Homo sapiens: one gene and its partners. The protein of the gene in region 4 purifies or fractionates together with the protein of the main gene of each other region. This does not show direct contact. Each region holds a gene or a part of one and is shown on either strand. Other genes may lie near its edges.

The links.
Region 1: the proteins of STAT5A (region 4) and PPARG purify together in Homo sapiens (affinity purification with western blotting; 2 studies listed by BioGRID). This does not show direct contact.
Region 2: the proteins of STAT5A (region 4) and PDHB purify together in Homo sapiens (affinity purification with mass spectrometry; 3 studies listed by BioGRID and IntAct, with this or other methods). This does not show direct contact.
Region 3: the proteins of STAT5A (region 4) and PDHA1 purify together in Homo sapiens (affinity purification with mass spectrometry; 3 studies listed by BioGRID and IntAct, with this or other methods). This does not show direct contact.

The regions. Positions count from the first base shown.
Region 1 is NC_000003.12:12,432,068-12,434,877, forward strand, and holds the end of PPARG (peroxisome proliferator-activated receptor gamma), read left to right. Parts: intron 1-1,830; coding exon 1,831-2,078; 3' UTR 2,079-2,277; downstream 2,278-2,810. UniProt on the Homo sapiens protein: Nuclear receptor that binds peroxisome proliferators such as hypolipidemic drugs and fatty acids.
Region 2 is NC_000003.12:58,430,833-58,438,558, reverse strand, and holds the start of PDHB (pyruvate dehydrogenase E1 component subunit beta, mitochondrial isoform 1 precursor), read left to right. Parts: upstream 1-4,726; 5' UTR 4,727-4,749; coding exon 4,750-4,791; exon of another isoform or gene 4,792-4,874; coding exon 4,875-4,928; exon of another isoform or gene 4,929-4,964; intron 4,965-6,574; coding exon 6,575-6,682; intron 6,683-6,765; coding exon 6,766-6,828; intron 6,829-6,930; coding exon 6,931-6,966; intron 6,967-7,616; coding exon 7,617-7,726. UniProt on the Homo sapiens protein: The pyruvate dehydrogenase complex catalyzes the overall conversion of pyruvate to acetyl-CoA and CO(2), and thereby links the glycolytic pathway to the tricarboxylic cycle.
Region 3 is NC_000023.11:19,353,900-19,360,934, forward strand, and holds part of PDHA1 (pyruvate dehydrogenase E1 component subunit alpha, somatic form, mitochondrial isoform 1 precursor), read left to right. Parts: intron 1-591; coding exon 592-684; intron 685-1,449; coding exon 1,450-1,605; intron 1,606-1,786; coding exon 1,787-1,858; intron 1,859-3,752; coding exon 3,753-3,820; intron 3,821-5,016; coding exon 5,017-5,125; intron 5,126-5,589; coding exon 5,590-5,754; 3' UTR 5,755-6,849; coding exon of another isoform or gene 6,850-6,934; 3' UTR 6,935-7,035. Other genes in the region: MAP3K15 (mitogen-activated protein kinase kinase kinase 15), read right to left, coding at 6,850-6,934. UniProt on the Homo sapiens protein: The pyruvate dehydrogenase complex catalyzes the overall conversion of pyruvate to acetyl-CoA and CO(2), and thereby links the glycolytic pathway to the tricarboxylic cycle.
Region 4 is NC_000017.11:42,291,480-42,298,514, reverse strand, and holds part of STAT5A (signal transducer and activator of transcription 5A), read right to left. Parts: intron 6,544-7,035; coding exon 6,454-6,543; intron 2,897-6,453; coding exon 2,722-2,896; intron 1-2,721. UniProt on the Homo sapiens protein: Carries out a dual function: signal transduction and activation of transcription. Mediates cellular responses to the cytokine KITLG/SCF and other growth factors. Mediates cellular responses to ERBB4.

The DNA of each region.
Region 1 (2,810 bases), on a different chromosome or scaffold from region 4:
TAAAAGCTATGGAAGAAAAATTAAAGATAGTGATAGATTTATCACCAAGCTCAGATGGTTCTGCAAACAAATTCTAAGAAACCGTCAGGGAACAGATCATTACTGCGTTGACACAGAAGGCAAACCTCTCAACTTGGTGTATAAGGCTAGTTAACATTGTTACTAAAACAGGCAAAGAATGGCCCCCAAAATAACTCTAAACCAGTATCACCTACAAATACAAAAACTCTATATAAAATATTAGCAAGTGAGTACAAGAGTATAAGGAACTCTATTAATGTAATTCACTGTGCTAGGTTAAGATAAAACCATAACTCTTCAGATATCATAGCTCTTTAGATAGAAAAATGTAAAAGTATTTGATAAAAATTCAACAACATTCCTGACTAAAACAAATTAAAATTGTAAAACCCCTGGAAAGCCAGGAGTAAAACATGTTCTCCATAATCTATAGCAAACATCATAGTTGCTGATAAACCATTAGAAGCATTTCCTTCAAAGTTAGGAATAAAACAAGAATTGCTACTATTGCTACTATTATTTAATCCCATATTGGAGGTTTTAGCCAACACACTATGGCAAGAAGAGGAAATGAGAAAGGTTAATGCTGCAAAAGAAGAAATAAATAAAGCTACCATTGCTGATATAATTATCTATCCAAAAAAAGTAGAAATCCATGATTAAAAGCTATTTGAACTGATAAAAGTTCAGAAAATTGGAATTGTTTCAATATACTAAAATCAATTAGTTTTCTGCACATCAGTGGGGATATATTAGATGTAATGAAAATGAAGGGTCCATTCACAATAGAAGCTATAAAGTATTTGAGAATAAATCTAACAAGATCTACATAAAGAAAAAAGTAAACTGCTTAAAAGTAATTTAAGTTCACCATTTGCAAATTGAACTAAAGAAAAATCTAAAGAAGAACTAGTGAAAATTGCTTGCAATCTTACCACTGAAAAGAAACCTCTGTTAAAATGTATCAGTATTTTAAAACTGTGTTTTGTCCTTTGGAAATATGCCATATTAAGCAAACATAGCATAAGCAAATTAAGCAAAAAGACAAACCTTTTTTTAAAAGCATATTTGTGAAAAAAGCATATTTGAAGCTATGATAAGAAACTGAGTAGAAGCTATAAAACGTAGATTCATCAGGAAGGAGCAGAAGTTGAAAAGGAGATTTCTGGCTGGGCACAGTGGCTCATGCCTGTAATCCCAGCACTTTGGGAGGCCAAGGCGGGTGGATCACTTGAGGTCAGGAGTTTGAGACAAGCCTGGCCAACATGGTGAAACCCTATCTCTACTAAAAATACAAAAATTAGAAAGGCGTGGTGGTGAGCACCTATCATCCCAGCTACTCAGGAGGCTGAGGCAGGAGAATAGCTTGATCCCGGGAGGCATAGGTTGTAGTGAGCCGACGTCATGCCACTGCACTCCAGCCTGGATGACAGAGCAAGACTCCATCTCAAAAAAAAAAAAAAAGAAAAGAAAAGAAAAGGAGATTTCTGAGTAGAAACACGTTAGCAGAGGAAACTTCATTTGGGGAACAGGATTGTTTTGATGCCATGCTCCCTCAGCTGACCACACAGATTACATCCTGGCCAGAAAAAGGCCCTGCAAAGAGCTCTGATCATTTTGGTTCTGATTCCATCCTTAGTTCTTACCCATTATCTGCTTACCCTTCCTCCCCACCTATTTAAGATACAAAGCAAAACAAACCAAAAATACAGATGAGTTGCTTGGTAGAGCTGCCTAGGCCTCCAAGGCGGGGCCCAGAGGATTTTTTGACTGAACCCCCTGTTGTGTTTTCCATATGTGCTTCCCCAGACCGCCCAGGTTTGCTGAATGTGAAGCCCATTGAAGACATTCAAGACAACCTGCTACAAGCCCTGGAGCTCCAGCTGAAGCTGAACCACCCTGAGTCCTCACAGCTGTTTGCCAAGCTGCTCCAGAAAATGACAGACCTCAGACAGATTGTCACGGAACACGTGCAGCTACTGCAGGTGATCAAGAAGACGGAGACAGACATGAGTCTTCACCCGCTCCTGCAGGAGATCTACAAGGACTTGTACTAGCAGAGAGTCCTGAGCCACTGCCAACATTTCCCTTCTTCCAGTTGCACTATTCTGAGGGAAAATCTGACACCTAAGAAATTTACTGTGAAAAAGCATTTTAAAAAGAAAAGGTTTTAGAATATGATCTATTTTATGCATATTGTTTATAAAGACACATTTACAATTTACTTTTAATATTAAAAATTACCATATTATGAAATTGCTGATAGTATTTGAAGACTGAGTCTTGTGTGTTTCCCACCCTAGCCCCCAGGCTTTCTTTTTTACCCCTTTTCCTTCTCCCCTCCCTCCCTCCATCCCTCTCACTCTTCCTCCCTCCCTTCCCTCCTTTCCTTCTTCCTTTATTTTTCTTTTCTTTCTTAGACATTTTAAAATATGTGAGTGGAACTGCTGATACACTTTCATTCTCAGTAAATTAATTTTTTACTCAATTTACAACTTTTCGGAACTCTGCATCTGCTTTAACAATCAGAACTAAGAAGGGAAGGGGAACTTCAGAATCAGAAACTGCTCAGAGCATGTGTTTTGTAGCCTGGATGTGCTGATATGCAGCATATCCCTGGGATTACCCAGAATTCAGTCTTCTTCCACAATCCTAACCGAGATTTTCACGCACCACCAGCAGCCTACTCGTATACTACCTACTAATCAATGCCACTGCGCACCCACAGAGCCAGTGGCCAGCAACTGAGCACTGCTAGAAACTCTGGGGAACACAGAACTTTTTTAAGA
Region 2 (7,726 bases), on a different chromosome or scaffold from region 4:
CAATATAGTTATTTGCATAAGTGCAAATAAGTATCTGTTTTCTTTTGCAACAGGACACAATTGGAGAAACTGGTTATTTTATCAAGGCTTTGACTGGAATGGCATGTTTTCTTTTAAGGAATTAAACTTAACTTATAGAGCCAATAGAAGCCCCTTGGGGAACTGGCCTCATACCTTGCCTACACAGTCCTTGTACAGGATTTCTGACCTGTGGTAAGTAAAGAATGTCACTTTCTAACAGACCCAGGAACTCCAAGTTATCTTGGAACCTCAAGAAGAGAGGAATTTACCCAACTCATACGTATTTGAGGGTACAAACCCATGGCAAAAAGTCTTATCTAAGATTCCTTCTTTGGAACAGAGTTCCAGGAAAGCCAATTTAAAAAGAGCTTATGTGGCTGGCTGTGGTGGCTCACACCTGTAATACCAGCACTTCGGGAGGCCAAGGTGGGCAGATCACTTGAGGTCAGGAGTTCGAGACCAGCCTGGCCAACAAGGTGAAATCCTGTCTCTATTAAAAATACAAAAATATTAGCAGGGCACGGTGGTGGGCACCTGTAATCCCAGCTACTTGGGAGGCTGAGGCAGATGAATCGCTTGAGCCCAGGAGGCAGAGGTTGTAGTAAGCCAAGATCGTACCACTGCACTCCAGCCTGGGTGACAGAGTGAGACTCCATCTCAATAAATAAATAATAAAAAGAGCTTATGTGAAAAATAATTATTCTTGCTACACTTTATATAAATAATCAGGCCAAGTATAACAAAGCAAATCAGTCTTACCAAGATTTGCCTTTAGTAAAAATGGGAAACTGGAGAGAGAAATATAATGTTTCAAGAACTTATGGTACACTGGTTATTAGATTCTAGTCTCATCAGTTGTTTTTAAGTTTGTTTCTGCAATTTAGGCTAACCCAGCTTATTCCTGTGAACCAACCAGTGATCTCTGACTGCTGCTCAAAACAAACAAGAGTGATGGTGTCAGGTCTCTGAGCCCAAGCCTGCACGTATTCATTCAGATGGCCTGAAGCAAGTGAAGAATCACAAAAGAACTGAAAATGGCCGGTTCCTGCCTTAACTGGTGACATTACCTTGTGAAATTCCTTCTCCTGGCTCGTCCTGGCTCAGGAGCTCCCCGACTGAGCACCTTGTGACCCCCCACTTCTGCCAGCCAGAGAACAAACCCCTTTGACTGTAATTTTCCACTACCTACCCAAATCCTATAAAACGGCCCCACCGCTATCTTCCTTCGCTGACTCTCTTTTTGGACTCAGCCCGCCTGCACCCAGGTGATTAAAAAGCTTTATTGCTCACATAAAGCCTATTTGGTGGTCTCTTCACATGGACGCGCATGGAAGATGGGTAATGTAAAAATCTGAATCGATATTCTAATTCTGAACACACTGGAATCAGCTAGCAACCCCACATCAGCTTGGTTCCAACAGTTGCCCAGTTCATGGAAAGCCTTCTAATTTAGTTTACTTGGGATAATTTTACTTATTTTGCTTTACTCTTGTGGAATATATTGCTATTGTACTCTTTGTGTAGGAGTGCAGGATAAGCTTACTGAATGTTTTCTTAAACTGAATACTTATTAATCTTCCAGATATCACCTTTTGTCAGAACTTGGAGTTATGAATGGCCCTCACTATACTGATGTTTTCTGAGCTCCTCTCTACTCTGAACATAAGGGACCCTAATAGTTAAGCAGGAATATCATCACCCCTATTCAGCCTGAAGAAGTTACAGAAGATGCATCTTCATCCCTCCGAAACTTTTAGGATTAAAGTTTCTCTCATAATAGGGAGGAGGCAAATGTCAGAGGAATGTGAACCAGAGCAACTCCATCTTGAATAGGAGCTGGGTAAAATGAGGCAGAGACCTACAGGGCTGCATTCCCAGACAGTTAGGCATTCTCAGTCACAGGATGAGATAGGAGGTCAGCACAAGATACAGGTCATAAAGACCTTGCTGATAAAACAGGTTGCAGGAAAGAAGCTGGCCAAAACCCACCAAAACCAAGACGGCGATGAGCATGACCTCTGGTCATCCTCACTGCTACACTCCCACCAGCGCCATGACAGTTTATAAATGCCACGGCAATGTCAAGAAGTTACCCTATATGGTCTAAAAAGGGGAGGCATGAATAATCCACCCCTTGTTTAGTATAAAATCAAGAAATAATCATAAAAATGGGCAATCAGCAGCCCTCAGGGCTGCTCTGTCTATAGAGTAGCCATTCTTTTATTGCTTTACTTTCTTAATAAACTTGCTTTTGCTTTGCACTGTGGACTTGCCCTGAATTCTTTCTTGTGTGAGATCCAAGAACTCTCTCTTGGGATCTCGATCGGGACTGCTTTCCTGTAACATCTCCTTTTGCTTGGCAAATCTGATCCTGAAATCTTTTGGTGCTAGGTTGTGGGAAAGGTGGGAAGGACTGATTCACTTTTTCATTCTGAGCACCACCCACAAACTTTTGGGGGCTGAAATCTCAAGTTCAGGAGTTTCTCAGGGATGCTGTGGCAGTCTAGGAAGTGCTGGCCATTCCTGAGGCCCTGGCAGGGACAGTTGGGACTAGACGATGGTGGCAGGTGAGGGAGACTCAGAAGGTGTTGATTCCATATCTTGAAGATCTTCTATCCATTTTACAGATGAAACAGTCCCAGAGAGTAAATGTCATCTCTATGCAGCTGTCCCCAAATTTCTACCTTTAGCCCTGACTAGGCCCTAGGCTCCAGGCAACCTGGGTATGTCCCAGTCATCTAAAGAATAAAGGCTGGCTGCAGTGGCTCATGCCTGTAATCCCAGCACTTTGGGAGGCTGAGGCGGGTGGATCACTTGAGGTCAAGAGTTCAACATCAGCCTGGTCAACATAGTGAAAACTCATCTCTACTAAAAATAAAAAAAATTAGCCGGGCATGGTGGCAGGTGCCTGTAATCCCAGCTACTCGGGAGGCTGAAGCAGGGGAATAGCTTGAACCTGGGAGGCAGAGGTTGCAGTGAGGCCCACTGCACTTCAGCCTGGGTGACAGAGTGAAACTCCATCTCAAAAAATAAACAAAAATACACTCTTACTTCCCCAGCTCCTGGCACTTACACTGCCCCAGGCTCCTCCCTTACCCCATCTATCCATCCAGCAATGACAAAAATCCAAAATTTTCCTCTGCTCTTCCCTAGCACTTACAGCATTCCTATTGATTCTAGCCCAAATAGATCTCAAAACTGTCCCCCTCCTCTCCATCTGGAAGTTGCCTCCTAGTCTGCCTCTGTTGCTGCCACAGACTTCCCAGCATCCGCCTGTTCTGCCTTTGCCTCCACCCCCTCCCATTCCCAGTCAGCAACCTACTGGAAGTTGCAAATTCCTAATTTGGCAGCCTGCAGCTGTGATCCATAGAAGGGAATGTTTGGAATGTCTTGGGGATGGGTGGAGACTGGGTGCTCAATTGTCCCATCTGACCCCCAAGGGCCAAATTAAGACTAATGAGCTTCCAGAGGTTGTCCCTATGGCCAAGTGTTTGGCACCTCCCCATAAGGGAGGAGACCACCCCTCATATTGTCTTATGCCCAATTTCTGCCTCCAAAGAAAGAAAAAGTAAAAACTAAAAGGCAGAAATGAAATCCACAAACAGACAGCCTGGTGCCACACCCTGGGCCTGGTAAAGATCGACCCCGACCTAATCGGTTATGTTAACTATAGATTACAGACATTGTATAGAAAAGCACTGTGAAAATCCCTATCCTGTTCCAGTCTAATTACCGGTGCTTGCAGCCCCTAGTCACATACCCCCTGCTTGCTCAATCAATCATGACCCTCTCACGCACACCTCCTTAGAGCTGTGAGCCCTTAAAAGGGACAGGAATTGCCCATTCAGGGAGCTCGGCTCTTGAGACAAGAGTCTTGCCCATGCCCCTGGCCGAATAAACCCCTTCCTTCTTTAACTCGGTGTCTGAGGAGTTTCGTCTGCGGCTTGTCCTGCTACATCCATAGGGCCGCCCTTCTCTAAAGTTGTTGTAACCTTCCCCCAAGCAGGAATCCACTTCTGCTTTAGGAAGCAGTGGGAAAAAGACCATGCTTTAGAGTCAAGACAGTCCTAAATTAAAATATCGGCTCATTTAATCAATTTCTGCTTCAGTTTAACCGTCTTCAAAATGGAGATAATAATAACACTAATTACCCAAGTGGGGTACTGTGAGAATGAGCTATACAGCACATATCTCAATGCTTGGCTCACAGTAGGTGCTTAATGCAATCAATGAAAGCTATGATGTGCATTATAAGGAATCAACAGACAGCACTGTCCAGGGAAGACTAGACTCACTCATGAAGTGTTAAGTTCCCCATCAGTAGAGCGTGTGCAAGCACTTCTTGGTGCCCAAAGGATTCCAGCACCCACAACAGGTTGGCCTAACTCTTAAGGTCTCTCCAGCTTCCAGAGATCATGCTCCTCAGGGTCTGACTTCTAGTCCCCACGCTTCAAGTAACACCGACCAGGCACGTGTGCCCAGCGTGCACCCCGCCTGTCGGTCACCGCCTACTGTCAATAAAGTTGATTTGAGGCGGCTCCAGGCAGAGGGGCACGGCCACCCACACGCCACCTCAGCCCGGCCCCGCGGCCCCTCACCCGGTGGGCGGGTGGGCGGGTCACGCAGCCGGCGCGCCTTGCCATTGGCCCGCGCCGGTGGAGGCGGGGCCTGCTCACGTCTGCCGGCCCCTCTGTTGTCGTTTGGCAGCGGATAGAGGACACGACCAAGATGGCGGCGGTGTCTGGCTTGGTGCGGAGACCCCTTCGGGAGGTAGGCAGCAGCGCGCGGCCTGTATTCCCACGCGACCCCTGCCCACCCTGCGTCCCGCCGTCATCTTCCTCTCTCCCTGCCAGGTCTCCGGGCTGCTGAAGAGGCGCTTTCACTGGACCGCGCCGGCTGCGCTGCAGGTAACAGGCGCGGGTGCTCGTCGGACGAGGGCGGGGAGGGTCCCCCCTTCTCTCGGGAAGGAGGCCGGAGTCGCGCCTGCGCTGTGGCCTTCCGGCGCCGTGGGCCTTGGGTTTGCGGAGCCAGCATCCTCCGTGGAGCTCCTGCTGCCTCTGTCGCCGCCTGGCAATTAGCACACCGGCGAGTCACCACCTCACAGCTGGCTGGGCAATGGGGGAAAACTAAGACTAGGCGTTTCCTCCCTCACTCCATGTTTTTTTCTTTAAATTGCAGCAAAATAGACCTAACTTAAAATGTACTTTTTAGAAGTGTATAATTCAGTGGCATTAAGTACATTCACCATGTTGTACAACCATTAACCACCATCCATTTCCAGAACTTTTTAATCATCCCAAGCAGAAACTGTCCATTACTCGGTAACTCCTCATTTCCCTTCCCCAAACCCCTGGTAACCCCTGTTGTACTTTTCTGTCTTTATGAGGTTGCCTATTCTAGAACTTCTTATAAGTGGCATCATTTGTCCTTTTGTGTCTGGCTTATCTCAGCGTAATGTCCTCAAGGTTCATCCATGTTGTAGCATGCGTCAGAGTTTGATTCTTTCCTAAGGCTGAATAATATATATATGTATATTTTTTTGAGATAGTCTCCCTCTGTCACCCAGGTTGGAGTGCAGTGGCGCGATCTCAGCTCACTGCAACCTCCACCTCCTGGGCTCAAGGGATTCTCGCGCCTCACACTCCTGAGTAGCTGTGATTAGATGCCGGTGCCACCACACCGGGCTAATTTTTGTATTTTTAGTACAGACAGGGTCTCACCATATTGCCCAGGCTGGTCTTGAACTCCTGGCCTCAAGTGATCTGCCTGCCTTGGCCTCCCAAAGTGCTAGGATTACAGGCATGAGCCACCTCGCTCAGCCCGACATTTTCTTTTTTTTTTTTGAGACGGAGTTTTGCTCTTGCTGCCCAGGCTAGAGTGCAGTGGCACTATCTCAGCTCACTGCAATCTCTGCCTCCTGGGTTCAAGCAATTCTGCCTCAGCCTCCCGAGTAGCTGGGATTACAGGCACCCGCCACCACACCCGGCCAATTTTTGTATTTTTAGTAGAGAATGGGTTTCACCATGTTGGCCAGGGTGGTCTCGAACTCCTGACCTCAAGTGATCCACCTGCCTTGGCCTCCCAGAGTGCTGGAATTACAGGTGTGAGCCACCGTGCCTGGCCTTGTTTTGTCTATTGTGAGTAATGCTGCTGTGAACATTGATGTGCAAGTATATGCTTGAATCCCTGCTTTCAATTATTTGGGGCATATACATAGAAGTGGAATTGATGGATTGTATGTTAATTCTCCTCTCCTTCCTTTTTTTAACTAGATTTTACCATTCATTATATTAAAAGAGCAACTCCTACATTCTGGATGCAAAGTATTTGGCAGTACTTGGCACCTAGTGAGCACTCAGTACATTAACACATGCAAAGACCAACTATGTGTAATAGAAATGTTACTTTTAGAATTCTTTGAGTTTTTAGAGAGAAGCTTGTTCTAGTGTTTTTATATTGTATGCTGTGGGCAGCCTAGGTAAATATAAAGGAAGAAAATCTTAGTTGAATCCCAAACAATTCTGTATTGACTGTTTTTGCATACCTGTGACAGGTGACAGTTCGTGATGCTATAAATCAGGGTATGGATGAGGAGCTGGAAAGAGATGAGAAGGTATTTCTGCTTGGAGAAGAAGTTGCCCAGTATGATGGGGCATACAAGGTAACTAAAATATATGAAAGTTATACAAAATTGAGGTCACTGTTACCCCCAGATACACTTAAGGGATCAACTCTTAATTGTAGGTTAGTCGAGGGCTGTGGAAGAAATATGGAGACAAGAGGATTATTGACACTCCCATATCAGAGGTAAGCCTTCCAGTGGGAAGCAGACCCTGGAGGGCATGTCTGTTAGTGTCCATTATCCTCATTTTTATGGATTTTCACTTATGTTTATATTTTACTTTATAGATGGGCTTTGCTGGAATTGCTGTAGGTGCAGCTATGGTATGTAATACTCTTTATGAAACTTATCCAAAGACATTTCTTGTTTTCTTTTTTTTTCTTTTGAGACAGAGTCTCACTCTGTTGTCCAGCCTGGAGTGCACTGGCACCATCTCAGCTTCCAGGTTCAAGCAATTCTCCTGCCTCAGCCTCCATAGTGGCTGGGGTTACAGGTCGCGCCACTGTGCCTAGCCAATTTTTGTGTTTTTAGTAGAGATGGGGTTTTACCATGTTGGCCAGGCTGGTCTTGAACTCCTGGCCTCAAGTGATCCGACCGCCTTGGCCTCCCAAAGTGCTGGGATTACAGGCGTGAGCCACTGTGCCCATCCCCAAAGAGATTTAACATCACCTTTTAAAAACATCATTTGGGAAAAAAAAAAAATACCAAGTAGGTAGATGTGGTGGTGCTTGCCTGCAGTCCCAGCTACTCGGGATGCTGAGGAAGGATTACTTGAGCCTAGGAGTTAGAGGCTGCAGTGAGCTATGATGTGTGCCACTGCACTCCAGCATGGGTGACAGTGAGACCCTGTCCATAAAAAATAAAAATAAAAAATAAAAACATTATTTGAATGTTGGAAGACTTGGAGTGATTTGTTTGCTACTGTTTGTTGCTGTTTCTAGTCTTTTTAACATCCACGTTTTTGATTTTACAGGCTGGGTTGCGGCCCATTTGTGAATTTATGACCTTCAATTTCTCCATGCAAGCCATTGACCAGGTTATAAACTCAGCTGCCAAGACCTACTACATGTCTGGTGGCCTTCA
Region 3 (7,035 bases), on a different chromosome or scaffold from region 4:
CTTTCTAATATATTAAGATTCTATTATGTGTTGTTTTTTTTTAAACCTAGGTTTTATTTTTCCTTTTGAAATGGAGTCTTGCTCAGCCGCCCAGGCTGGAGCAGTGGTGTAATCTCAGCTCACTGCAACCTCCACCCCCGGGTTCAAGCAATTCTCCTGCCTCAGCCTCCCGAGTAGCTGGGAATATAGTTACGTGCCACCATGCCCAACCATTTTTTGTATTTTTAGTAGAGACGGGGTTTCACCATCTTGTCCAGGATGGTCTCGATCTGTGGACCTCGTGATCTGCCCAAAGTGCTGGGATTACAGGCGTGAGCCACCACGCCCGGCCAGGTTTTATTTTTTAACTCTTGAATGCAGAAATGTTAGTGCTTACTGGTTAAAATAGAACATAGTATTTATATATTACTTTAGTGCTTTATTGAAAATATCGGAGGTGGGATAAACAGAGAGATAGGGTTGGAAGGAGAGTTTGTAGCAGCAGTGTAATTTCTGTGTCAGATTCTGGCCAGGAGTGAAAATGCAGGGCATTAATTAGTATCTCCCCTCATGGATTTCTGTGGTTCCTTTCTCGGTTGTCCTTAATGTTAGGTGCCCCTGGGCGCTGGGATTGCTCTAGCCTGTAAGTATAATGGAAAAGATGAGGTCTGCCTGACTTTATATGGCGATGGTGCTGCTAACCAGGTAATTATGTCTCTTAACTTCCCAAAAACAGTCTTATTTTCAAAGTCTTTAATATTTACAGTTGAATTTCTAAAGAAGTAGCATATTGCTTATTAGGTGAAATAGCAAGTCCTATGGCTAGCTCAAATTTGGTTGACTTATGGCCAGATTAGAGATTGACCTCTTAGCGTTGTTTCACAAGAGACTTACGGGGGCACATTCCTGTGAAGGAGCTCACCTTTGCTCTACATCAGTGCTTGGCAAAGGCCCTGTGGTAAAGGACCTCCCCACAACCTATTGCAAAACAATACAGACCCATTCTCTTGGATGTCCGGGCTGGCAGTGTCAAATTCGGATAATAGCGTCTGAGTCCTAACTCAGTTTCTATGCTTCTCTTGTTACCGAGTAATCCCCAGTCTGTGGCCAGCACTCTGTGAAGCCCTGTTCTAGAGGCTGATTCTTAGGTGCTGGTTCACTCTGGCTATCCAGTGGGCCTGATAGATTTCATATTGATCTTTTTTCCAGTGTGTTCCTTACTGCTAGCATGGCCCCAAAGAAACAAGTAGTAGTTGGTTTGTCACCTTCCTTAGTTGCAAGAGTATGATGCCTGCTACTTCTCCTCCACCACCCACCCCGCTTTCCCTCACCACCCAAAGCTCGGTTTTAGAAGAGGAGGCTTTCTGTGCTTTATGAAAGCTTTCTGTGCCAGGCAGAGCAGCAGCTGTTAGAGATGATGAAGCCTGGAGAAAGAAGCCAAATGAAACCCCTTTTCGTAACTACTTCCAGGGCCAGATATTCGAAGCTTACAACATGGCAGCTTTGTGGAAATTACCTTGTATTTTCATCTGTGAGAATAATCGCTATGGAATGGGAACGTCTGTTGAGAGAGCGGCAGCCAGCACTGATTACTACAAGAGAGGCGATTTCATTCCTGGGCTGAGAGTAAGGACACCTGTGGTGGGGCCGGGGCCAAGGCCAAGGCCAAGGGTATGTCCTTGTGCAGACCCTTGACGATCTTAGAAACATTGGAGAGTTTCATTCTCATACAGGAGCAGGTCATGTGAAAGTAAAATGGTTTGGGGCAGTTGGATTCATGCTTCGCCCCTCCCCTGTTTATTACCAGGTGGATGGAATGGATATCCTGTGCGTCCGAGAGGCAACAAGGTTTGCTGCTGCCTATTGTAGATCTGGGAAGGTAAGGCTCTAAAGCCCTCTGGGCTAGTGACATTTATCTCTGGAAGTTCAAAGACTGCCTCCCATGTGCCTGCTGAAGCTGTTAGTGGGTACCTGCTAATTGAGGTGCATGAGATGGAAGCAGAGTGAAGGGAGCAGGGCTCCTTTGGGTAGCTTGGTCTTGGTAGCTCACCTGCTGGGAAGCCTACGTTTCTCTCATTTGGGGGAAGTCCGTTCTGGTGCTTCCTCTGCTTTGGCCTGTCTTCATGACAACTGATTTGCCTTTTCCTTAGGTTAATTCTGTCCCTCCTCCCCACCCCCCATTAATCATGAGTCCCTTGAAGGAACAGATTGGGGATCCCCACAGTGTCCAGCATAGAATGTCATGTATACAATAGGCATTTAATATGTGTGTCTTATACAAATTAAACAGTATGGTAGAAGCTCGTAATCTTAGTCTTGCTCAGTCCTAAGGATCTTTCCCTTTTCAGTGTATGGCAGTGAGGGAGATGGTAAGAGGGAGACTGGCCTAAAGAGGTTTCACTTCCTTTGGCACTAGTATAGGCTTAGGAGGTTTGGGTGTTCTCCCTAAATCAGTGTTCTACAGCCCAGAAACAAGGTTTCTGAAGTTGGCACTTCAGCGCCATACCATGTACGTTTAGGCAGTGATGTGAATCAGATGTGGCCAGCAATGATGGAAATGTCACAAAGTGGAGAGACAGGGAAGTGAGGGTGGGAATGTAGTAACATTAAATAAGAGCTAATGAGTAGAATGAACTAGAGCAGGACCAAGACTACAGCTTGGGTACAATGGGCTGAGCAGTCTATGTCAGGACCCTAAGGCTGGGAGTGCCAGGCCCTGAGTGATGGGTATTGACGCCACCTCTCCCAATTCCTGAAAAGAATACATGGGGGCCAGCCCTGGCTGGAGACAAGGGGAGTTGTAGAATGTAGTTGTAGAATGTGTGACTTTCCCAAACAGATAACCTTCACAATTCTGAGTTAGGTGTTATTGTTTTGCCCATTTTGCAGACAAGGAAACTGAGCCATAGAGCAGTTAAAGGTACACAGCTACTCTGTCTTGGAGCCAGCTCCCCACTCGCCCATTTTAACTGCTGCACCAAACCAACCAAGGATCCTCAATGTTTCTCCACCCCAGTGTTCAGAGCCGTCTCCTGGAAGTGGGCTAGTGTAGAATGAGCGAGCCCAACTGTCCAGACTCCCAGCAGAGCCTTGGGGTTTGGGTAGCAGAGGTTGTTGGTGCCTGCCAACTTTGTTACACACTAGCAAGGTCTGTGAAGTAGGAGTGGCTGCCAGCCCCACAACACACCATGAGAAAGGAGCATGAGATGGAAATCTGTCTAGCCAATAGCAGGAGGCTCTAGAACATGCTCAGAGCCTTTTTCTTTTTTCACAGGGTCTCGCGCAGTGGCACACTCACAGCTCACTGCACCCTTGACCTTCCAGAATCAGGTGATCCTCCCAAGTAGCTGGGACTACAGGCGCACGCCACCATGCCTGGCTAATTTTTGTATTTTTTGATAGAGATGGGGTTTTGCCATGTTGTCCAGGCTAGTCTCGAACTCCTGGGCGCAAGTGCTCTGCCCACCTCAGCTTCCCAAAGTGCTGGGATTACAGGCATGAGCCACCATGCCTGGCCTTCAAAGCCTTTTTGATTCAAAACAAGCTGTTGGCAGATTGCCTTATTAAAAATGAGAAAGATGAAATATGCAATCAATACTTGCTAGAAATGAGAACAGATCAGTCAACCAATAAGAAATTCGTGACAACTCAGAAGATCTGATAAGACTACACTGGACGCTTAATAAAGGGCCTGCGTTTGAGGCCGTGGATTGCCGGCCTGTTCTTCCAGTCATCGTTCCTAACTAACTAACTGCCTACCGGTTCTGTTTTAGGGGCCCATCCTGATGGAGCTGCAGACTTACCGTTACCACGGACACAGTATGAGTGACCCTGGAGTCAGGTACGCTCATGGGCAGTGTGGTTTCCATAGGGGTGGGCTTTGAATGGTGTTACATGGCAAAAGCAACACATTTCAGTATTTGCTTTTGGAGCTAGATACCAGTTCACTTCATGTACGCAGTTGTGTTGGGCATCAAGTTATCTGAAAGCAGTGCCTCCTAATAAGAAAGCTTTCTGAAAATGCCTACAGTGTATAGTGTGTGTGAGCACAAGCAGCAATTTTTAAAGAAAGAGTGTTATATACCTTAATTGTAGAGGGAAATTGTTACATAAAACAGGGCTGATGGTAGTGTAGTATCTTGGGGGCATTTAGCTTTTGTAGGCATTACCCCAAGTCTACACCTGGCATACTCTACCTGAAGAGGATCAGAATTTGGAGATGTTCCTCTGTCTGGTATAGAGCTAAGGGTAACTGGGTGTTCAATCCGTTGAAATACATCAATCAAAAAAGCTAGGTTCCACTAGGAAGGCATGAATTTTACTTTTTTGCTTAGTAGCTCTGGCCTGTGATTCTGGAATCCCAGTTTTGACACAGTTGAATAAATAAGCCTTTGTAGAGTGGACTTCTAAGGAAAAATCATGTAGAGAGCACAGTATATGGAAAAATGCACTTTGTGTAAATCTATTGTTGAAAATGGTAGAATCCTTTTAGTGTTACTTCAGATGATATAGGCATAAGATACATTGGTTTTGCTGGCTGTGCTTCTTTAGGGGGACTTAAGGGAGAAAGGCAAGGCACATGGATTTCCTGCTTGGCGCTCTGATGTCTCAAAGTCTAATTATCACCACACACACCATCTCTGCTGTCCCCACCCATGTAGTATACAGGAGCCCAAATGGGTGGGACAAGTGACACTTCTTTAGAACCTTACATCTAAATCAAAGCAGCAAGCAAAAACTTGGCCCCTGTTGTCGGAATGCCAGGGAAGCCATGTGACTCACCAGTGTACGGTTTTCTAGAAAAGACAGAAGCAGTTATTACAGAATGTTAGGCTGCGTTCTGGTATTTTGAAAGTATAACAACAACTCTGCCACGCCTATAGTGACATAAGCATTGGTATGCCCCTTTGTTTCAGAAACACACTTCTGTATTTCACCTCATTGGGACAATCCAACCCCATATCATGTTTCATCACGCCGTCCTTGCTCTACTGGAACTGCTCTTACTGATCGATTACTACTTTTCCCTCCCCATAGTTACCGTACACGAGAAGAAATTCAGGAAGTAAGAAGTAAGAGTGACCCTATTATGCTTCTCAAGGACAGGATGGTGAACAGCAATCTTGCCAGTGTGGAAGAACTAAAGGTACAGTCACTTGTTCATGGTGGTTTGAAGGTTGGCTTTAAAAGTTGCCACCCCTGGGTGGCCACAGAGTTTGTGTGGGTTCCTCCAAGCCCAGAAAGTGATGTCCTGGGACATAAATAGTTCCATAGTTCCAAAGTCCCTTGGGGTGGGGGCTTTTCCTTTAGTTTCCTCTATTCAAAATTGTATTACTCTTCAGATTTCAGATTTTGGTGGACTGTGAACCACCATCACAGTGGCAAAGCCCCCACAGTAGTATGGTTCTTTTTTCCTAAAAGTATACTGTGGATTTTTAATTCATAAAATAGATACACCCTAGAAATCTGTATTCCAAAATCTTCTGAATTAGCAACTGTTCGTACTTGTAGTTAAAGAGTTACACCAGCAACAGGTCCTCAGCAGAACTCTAGTTGGTACCTAAGCTGCTGTTCATTCTAAAACCTTTTACACTGTTACCTAATTTTTAGGAAATTGATGTGGAAGTGAGGAAGGAGATTGAGGATGCTGCCCAGTTTGCCACGGCCGATCCTGAGCCACCTTTGGAAGAGCTGGGCTACCACATCTACTCCAGCGACCCACCTTTTGAAGTTCGTGGTGCCAATCAGTGGATCAAGTTTAAGTCAGTCAGTTAAGGGGAGGAGAAGGAGAGGTTATACCTTCAGGGGGCTACCAGACAGTGTTCTCAACTTGGTTAAGGAGGAAGAAAACCCAGTCAATGAAATTCAATGAAATTCTTGGAAACTTCCATTAAGTGTGTAGATTGAGCAGGTAGTAATTGCATGCAGTTTGTACATTAGTGCATTAAAAGATGAATTATTGAGTGCTTAAAGATTATTTTTGACTTAAAATAGTATACTTTGAACAAATACTCTAATTATGAAAAGGAAGAACAATTCCTTGTATGCCTGTTTCCCCTGCCCCCAGCCACCTTTTTGGGAGGAGACCATTATGGCGGGGCCCCTCACAGCATTCTACCAACCATAGCACCCACCCCGAGCAGCGCTGGTGCTGCAGCCTGTTCGCGCTGACCATTTCTCTACAAGATACAATATTTATTATCAGGCAAGAGGACAGTTCCATTTTAAAATAAGACTTTTGTAATCATTCCAATTTTGTAATCATTTCAAAGGCCACATAACTTAGTTTTCTCTACTTACACATTCAGTATAAATATGAAGCTATTTTCTGTTCATATCAAACATTAACTACAAGGCACATTCGTATCAGTTTTGTGTTTCTCAAATTGAAGTACCATACCAGTTCTGAGGCAGTGTCCCAGCTTCCATGTTTGTTAAATACCCCTTGTTTGTTTCACCATTCCAGCAAGTGCTGAAGGGTGTACTTTTTTTGAGACAGGGTCGGGCTCTGTTGCCCAGGCTGGAGTGCAGTGGTGTGATCATGGCTCACTGCAGCCTCCACACCTCCTGGGCTCAAGCAATCCTCCCACCTCAGCCTCCTGCATAGCTGGGACTACAAGTGAATTTCCTAATATTCCGGGAGGTCAAAACCAAGGCTCACTGTTTTCACAATACACACAGTTCTATGTTTATAAATAACAGGTTTCAAAAGAAACTCAGGACAGTATTTAAAACAAGTTCTTAAACTATTAATTGAACAATGGCATTTTTAAATATGTAAACACAGCGGAATTCGTGTATACACTAACAGAAGCTTTAACAAAACATGTAGCGTGGTGGGACACTCTGCCACAGCTTAGCTGATTGGTATCAAGCCTTGTCTTTGGTTTCTGAGGCCTCCTGAGCCCTTCTGTACTGGGAGACCGCACTCCAGAGTCTGCAGAGGAGACCACCCCTGGGAAACAAACACAGCTGTCTTCAGAGTCAGTGCTTCAAGCCAACAGAGCTTAAAACTGCAGTCCCTAATTTAAAAACCTAATGAAAATAAAAACATTC
Region 4 (7,035 bases):
GGGCGACAGAGCTAGACTCTGTCTAAAAAAAAAAAAAAAAAAGTATCCATCATGTGCCAGGCTCGGTGGCTTACGCCTGTAATCCCAGCACTTTGGGAGGCTGAGACAGGCAGATCACTTGAGGTCAAGAGTTCGAGACCAGCCTGGCCAACATGGCAAGACCCTGTCTCTACTAAAAATACAAAAATTAGCTGGGCATGGTGGCGCATGCCTGTAATCCCAGCTACTTAGGAGGCTGAGGCAGGAGAATTGCTTGAACCCGGGGTTAAAGGTTGCAGTGAGCCGAGAGCACCACTGCACTCCAGCCAAGGCAACAGAGCAAGACTCCATCTCAAAAAAAAAAAAGTATCCATTATGAAATACGTAAGACACAGGGGATGTGGAACACAAGGGCGCCTGTGTATCAATAACCCAGGCTAAGAAAGTAAACATGTCCACAGTTACAACCACCACCGCAGGCCCACCCCACCCTCCCAGCGACAGCCCGTCTCCACCACACTGGGACTATTAATCCCTTCCCATCACCTTCTCAACAGCCCAGCGTCCTTGCTTGAGCTGAGTCAGAAGATGCGCGCACCAGCATGTCTTGGTCGAGCTCCTGGCTGGCCCCTGAGGGCCACGTCACTCTGACCCCAGCCCTGACCCATGGGATGCACAAGCTGGGACAGACAAAAGCAACTCTATGTAGCCAGGAACAGCCCAGAGCTAGAACTCAGAAATATGGCTCCAATCTCACTGCAGGTATCGAGCAGGAAGAGGATCATCCAGGCACGGACAGATCCGAGGTGTCTGCACGGCTACCTCGGGTATCCTGCCCAGCCACAGGGAGGGTGGTGGTGATCCCAACACCTGGGCCCAGCCTTCCTATGCAAGGGACCCACTTAGGGCTCTCCTGGAAATTTGCAGAAGCTTTTAGGAAGGAGGCCAGGGAGACGGGAAGCAATTTCCCTACTCCACTGGAGGCAGCTGAGCCTTCCCTGGCAAAAGCAGATCAATAGTCTGTGTTTCTGCTGAGTGAACTTGACAAATGGGACTGAGAAGACACTGCATGATAGATCCAAACCCAACCTGAATCCAAACCTAATCCGCCACCATGCACAGGAAACAGAAAAGCCAGGCACGGGATCAGAAATACTGTCGACAGTCTAAGGACTTGGGTAGGAATAACCGCCCAAAATCTTCCGTTTCCATTCTCAGAAGGAGCTGCCCTTCTTCTAGGGCCAGTCTGGGATAGATTCAGATGAGGGGAAATTCTCTTAGAATTATCCTGTCAGTATTGGCTGGGCACCGTGGCTCACGCCTATAATCCTAGCACTTTGGGAGGCCGAGGCAGGCAGATCACTCGAGGCTAGAGGTTGCAACCAGCCTGGACAACACGGCACAACCCTGTATCTACTAAAACTACAAAAAAAAAAAATTAGCCAGGCATGGTGGTGCATGTCTGTAGTCCCAGCTACTGAGGAGGCTGAGGCATGAGAATAGTTTGAACCTGAGAGGCAGAGGTCGCAGTGAGATGAGATCGTGCCACTGCACTCCAGCCTGGGCAATAATAAATAAACAAACAAACAAACAAACATTTAGAATTATCCTGCAAGTATTTACATAATAGCTGCAATATTCAGGCATTGTGCTGGTCTCAGTGTACACAAAGCACTGACAGTGCAGGGTTAGGAAGAGAGCTTAAATAGCTACAATAGAATTCTAAAAAAATCAGCTGGGCGTGGTGGCCTGCACCTGTAGTCCCAGCTATGCGGGAGACTGAGGCACAAGAATTTCTTGAAGCTGGGAAGCAGAGGCTGCAGTGAGCCGAAATCATGCCACTGTGCTCCAGCCTGGGCGACAGAGCAAGATTGTCTCAAAAAAAAGAAAAGAAAAAGAAAGAAAAGAAAAGAAGAAAGGTCTAAAATCAATGACCTAAGGTCTACCTTAAGAAATCAGATTAAAAAGAGTAAAGGAAAAAGCAGTTTGACACCCCTTGTTCTCACTAAGATGAGGTGTTACATTTCTGGGGTCAGTCTGGAATGGGACATATTAATAGATGGGCCATGTCCCATGACTCCTCAAATTGTACCTGGGGATAGTTCCTTTCAAGCTAATTTGATTTTTTAATTTCCCCACATCTTTATCATGGGAGCCATTGGCGAACTACAGACCTAGGATACAGGAGAATTTTCTACTGTCACCCCTTCCCCCAGGCCCACATCCTATCCGTGAGGCTCAAGAAGGCCCACTTTGGAAGTTCCACCTCTCCCAGCCTGGTTCAACCAGAAGACTTCCAATCCAAGTCCTCCCTCTGGTTAGGGAGCACTGTTCATATTTACCTATTTGTGTCGATATTTACAGAATACATACCATTAAGGAGAGAATACTGGTTAATAAAGTACAGGAGTTTTATGATATATCTCTAGTTGAGATCCAGTTCTGTAATTTACAGGCAACCTAGGCCAAGTTACTTGTTCTCTTTGAACCTCACTTTTACCATCTGCAAAAGGGGGGATAACACAACTGTTCACTTCATAGGCTTGTTGAGAGGGTTGAATTAAATAATGTGTGCCAAGTGTGACCCACGGCAGGGGCTCAATCACCGGGAGCCATTGCTTCTACCAGGCTTTGGGCAAAGTGCTGAGGAGATGGACACTGACCCAGCTCTACCCTCTAGGAGTCCATAGAATGTTCCTCACTCCCACCCTCCGGATGCACACTGCCTCCACCGCGCCTCACCTTGGATCCTCAGGCTCTCCTGGTACTGGATGATGAAGTACTCCTGAGTCTGCTGCAGTTTCTTCAGCTCATTCTCTGTGTCCTGCGTGACCAGTCGCAGCTCCTCAAATGTCTGGTTGATCTGAAGGTGCTTCTGGGACATGGCGTCAACCAGGATCCCAGCCGGAGAGCTGCACTGGAGACAGATGGAATGGAAATAACTCGGGGAAGAGAGGATGGGAGAAGACCACAGGCATTAGGAAACACCAATACTACAGACCCCAAACCCCAAACCCCAAACTAGGGTAAGAAGGGAAACTAGGGCAAGAAGGAAGGATCATTTGCATCAGAAGGAGTCATTTGCCAGAATTGGGATAGAAAAGGGAAAGAGAAAGGAGAAACAGGTGACCTGGCAGATAACGGCAGATAGTAACACCTTCAAAGTCCAAATATCTATGTCAGAGCTGCCCTCCACTAGAGTATTCCAAACAGGGTCCATCTAATTTCCTCCCAGGGACTAGAACTCAACACGTCCCAGGTGTCACCTGGGTTTTCCCACTAATGATGATGACCCCTCGCTCTACATTTATTTGCTGACTCAATACCATGGACTGCAGTAGATCCTAGGGACATAGGGAGGAACAGGGCTGTGTGAACACACACCATCTCACTTAAGACCCCCTTGTGACTGAAGGAAGAGGGAAGAGGCCGAAACTCTCACAGGCATCCTGGAGACCCCGAAATGAAGTTAGAGGGGAGGCATCAACAAGCTCCCCTTGGATCCAGCCATTCCTTCAGCACATTCAGGAGAATCGCTTGAACCCAGGAGGGGGATGTTGCAGTGAGCCGAGATTGCGCCACTGCACTCTAGCCTTGGCAACACAGCGAGACTCCGTTTCAAAAAAAAAAAAAATAGAGAGAGAGGGGTAGAAACCAGGTCACAAAGGGAGGGAGCACATGGATGAAGAGGAACAAGTCCTCAGAGGCTTTCCAATGAACTGTTCTCAGAATAAAATCCAAACCCCTTCCCATGGTGTCTGCTGGCCATAGCCCTGCCTACCTCCAACCCCAGCTCGCTGGGAATGTGTGCTTTCTGTTTCTGTTCCTTGAACACACAGGCATGTTCCTGCCCTGGGGCCCTTGCACTTATTGTTCCAACAGTCTGGAACATTCTGGCATCAGATCCTCCTGAGGCAAAGCACTTTAACTGGTACCATTGCAGAGGGGTCATCTCTGACGAGCCAATTCACAGTAGTCCTATCTAAAAGTGTGTTGTTCTTGTATTTGCTTACATGTTTCTGTCTGTCTCCCTGCACAAGGATGTGAGGTTCCCAAGGGCTAGGACCTTGCCTTTCCTGTGAACTACAGAATCCCCAAGCCCTAGAATGCCAGGGGTGTTCAGGAACAGTTGTATGGTTGGAGGAAGGAATGAGCTCCCAGACCATGACAGCACCAGCACCATGGACATGGATTTGTCAATGAGGCTGAAGTCATTTTTAGGTTTGCAGATAGCTCTGTGATGGCAACAAGTCAGGGACACAGGGGCTGTGCTGGAAGACCCTTTGTGACCTGGTTTCTAACCCCTATTTTTTTTTTTTTTATACAGAGTCTCGCTCTGTTGCCCAGGCTGGAGTGAAGTGGTGCAATCTCAGCTCACTGCAACATCCCCCTCCTGGGTTCAAGCAATTCTCCTGCCTCAGCCGCCCGAGTAGCTAGGATTACAGGCGCCCGCCACCACGCCTAGCTAATTTTTGTATTTTTTAGTAGAGACTGGGTTTCACCATGTTGGCCAGGCTGGTCTCGAACTTCTGACGTCAGGTGATCCGCCCACCTTGGCCTCCCAAAGTGCTGGGATTACAGATGTGAGCCACCACGCCTGGCCCTCTCTATCTATTTTTATCCATGGCAACTCCCCACTTGGTTCCTTCTCCCCAGTTACACTGACCACTTACAAGTCTTCCAATGTGATAAGAAGATTCATGCCCTCCTGCTCTCGCAGCTGCTGTCTTTTCATTAGAAAATTCATCCCTCCTCTCCTGCCTTTCTCCACTGTAGCTCAGACATGCCTGTCCACAGGACGCTCCCCTGCCAGCCTGCCCCAATCTGAGTTGGGTGCTTTTTCCACCTAGGCCCCCTTAGCACTCAGCTCATCTCTAGAGAATCCATCACTGCCAGAATTCCTTCCAGGCAAGAACCAGGCCTTTATGTGTTTCTCTGATGATAGCCCAGCATCGGACACACAGTAAGACCTCAATAAATGTCTACTGAGTAAATCCTGAAATCCATGTCCACAACAATAAATACGTAATAGGCCGGGCGTGGTGGCTCATGCCTGTAATCCCAGCACTTCGGGAGGCCGAGGCAGGTGGATCACTTGAAGTCAGGAATTCGAGACCAGCCTGGCCAACAGGGTGAAACCCTGTCTCTACTAAAAATACAAAAATTAGCCGGGCATGGTGGTGGGCCCCTGTAATCCTAGCTACTTGGGAGGCTGAGGCATGAGAATCTCTTGAACCCAAGGGGTGGAGGTTGCAGTGAGCCGAGATCACGCCACTGCACTCCAGCCTAGATGATAGAGTGAGACTCAGTCTCAAAAATAAATAAACAAACAAACAAATAAAGAAAGAAATAATAAATATGACCTGTGCTCCGGTCACTGTTCTAAGATTTCTGTCACGTCATGTTGTGAAATTCATTTTGCTCTATTGCAGATAGTACAGCACTGTGCCATTGTCCATGTAGATGCCCAGTGCCTTTATTATTTCAGAACTGGGGAGATGTGTCCCTGTTACCCCTCCCTGGGCCTCACTTCTCTGAGCCTGCCTGTGTTAGTTCTTCTGACACAGATAGGTATGATTGCTATCTCCATTTTACAAGAGTAGGAACAGGCCGGGCACGGTGGCTCACGCCTGTAATCCCAACACTTTGGGAGGCCGAGGCGGGTGGATCATGAGGTCAGGAGTTCAAGACCAGCCTGGCCAACATAGTGAAACCACGTCTCTACTAAAAATACAAAAAAAATTAGCCGGGCATGGTGGTGGGCACCTGTAATCCCAGCTACTCGGGAGGCTGAGGCAAGAGAATTGCTTGAACCTGGGAGGCAGAGGTTGCAGTGAGCAGAGATCACATCACTGCACTCCAGCCTGGGCAACAGAGCAAGACTGCATCTCGGGGGGGAAAAAACAGTAGGCGCCAAGCGTGGTGGCTCACGCCTGTAACCCCAGTACTTTGGGAGGCCGAGGTGGGCGGATCACGAGGTCAGGTTGAGACCATCCTGGCTAACACAGTGAAACCCCATCTCTGCTAAAAATACAAAAAATTAACCGGGCATGGTGGTGGGCGCCTGTAGCCCCAGCTACTCGGGAGGCTGAGGCAGGAGAATGGTGTGAACCTGGAAGGCAGAGCTTGCAGTGAGCCGAGATCACGCCACTGCACTGCAGCCTGGGTGACAGAGCAAGAATCCGTCTCAAAAAAAAGAAAAAAGAAAAAAGAAAAAAAAACAGGAACAGAGGCTCAGAGAGATTAAGCAACTTGCTCAAGTCACACAGCTAGTAAGTGGTAGAGCCAGGGACTGGATCCAGGGGGTCACTCCACCCCGGCGTGCAATGCTGCCACCTCTTACACTTGCCCACGTCCCTCATCTTCTTGGTGCTCTCCTCGTGCTGCTGTTTTATATAAACACAGTTGTTTCTGGAGAGAAAGGCATATGGAGGGACTTCTCAACACTCCTCCCCATCCCCAAGGGACACTCACATTGTTGGCTTCTCGGACCAGCCTCTGTTCATTGTACAGAATGTGCCGGATGCAGCGGACCAGCTCCAGGGGGCAGCGGTCATATGTTTTCTGAAAGAATCCAACAGTAGCCTCCAGCGCCATCCTCTGCTCCAGCCATGCCAGCCCCATGCTATGCCCAGCCCTTCCTCTCCTTCAGCCTCTGCCTCAGCTTTTCCCAGGGAGCCTCAGGAACTATCCCCAGACACCTCTATATCTCTGTTCCTCATCCTCATCTTCCCCTCCAAGATCTTCATATCTGGTTTGGAGCGAATTAAAAACCCACAGTTTATGAGGCACTTTCTCTTTTTTTTTTTTTTCTTTTTGAGATGGAGTTTTGCTCTTGTTGCCTAGGCTAAAGGTGCAATGGTGTGATCTCAGCTCACTGCAACCTCCACCTCCCGGGTTCAAGCGATTCTCCTTCCTCAGCCTCCTGAGTAGTTGGGATTACAGGCATGTGCCATCACGCTCGGCTAATTTTGTATTTTTAGTAGAGGCGGGGTTTCTCCACGTTGGTCAGGCTGGTCTCGAACTCCCGACCTCAGGTGATCCACCCGCCTCGGC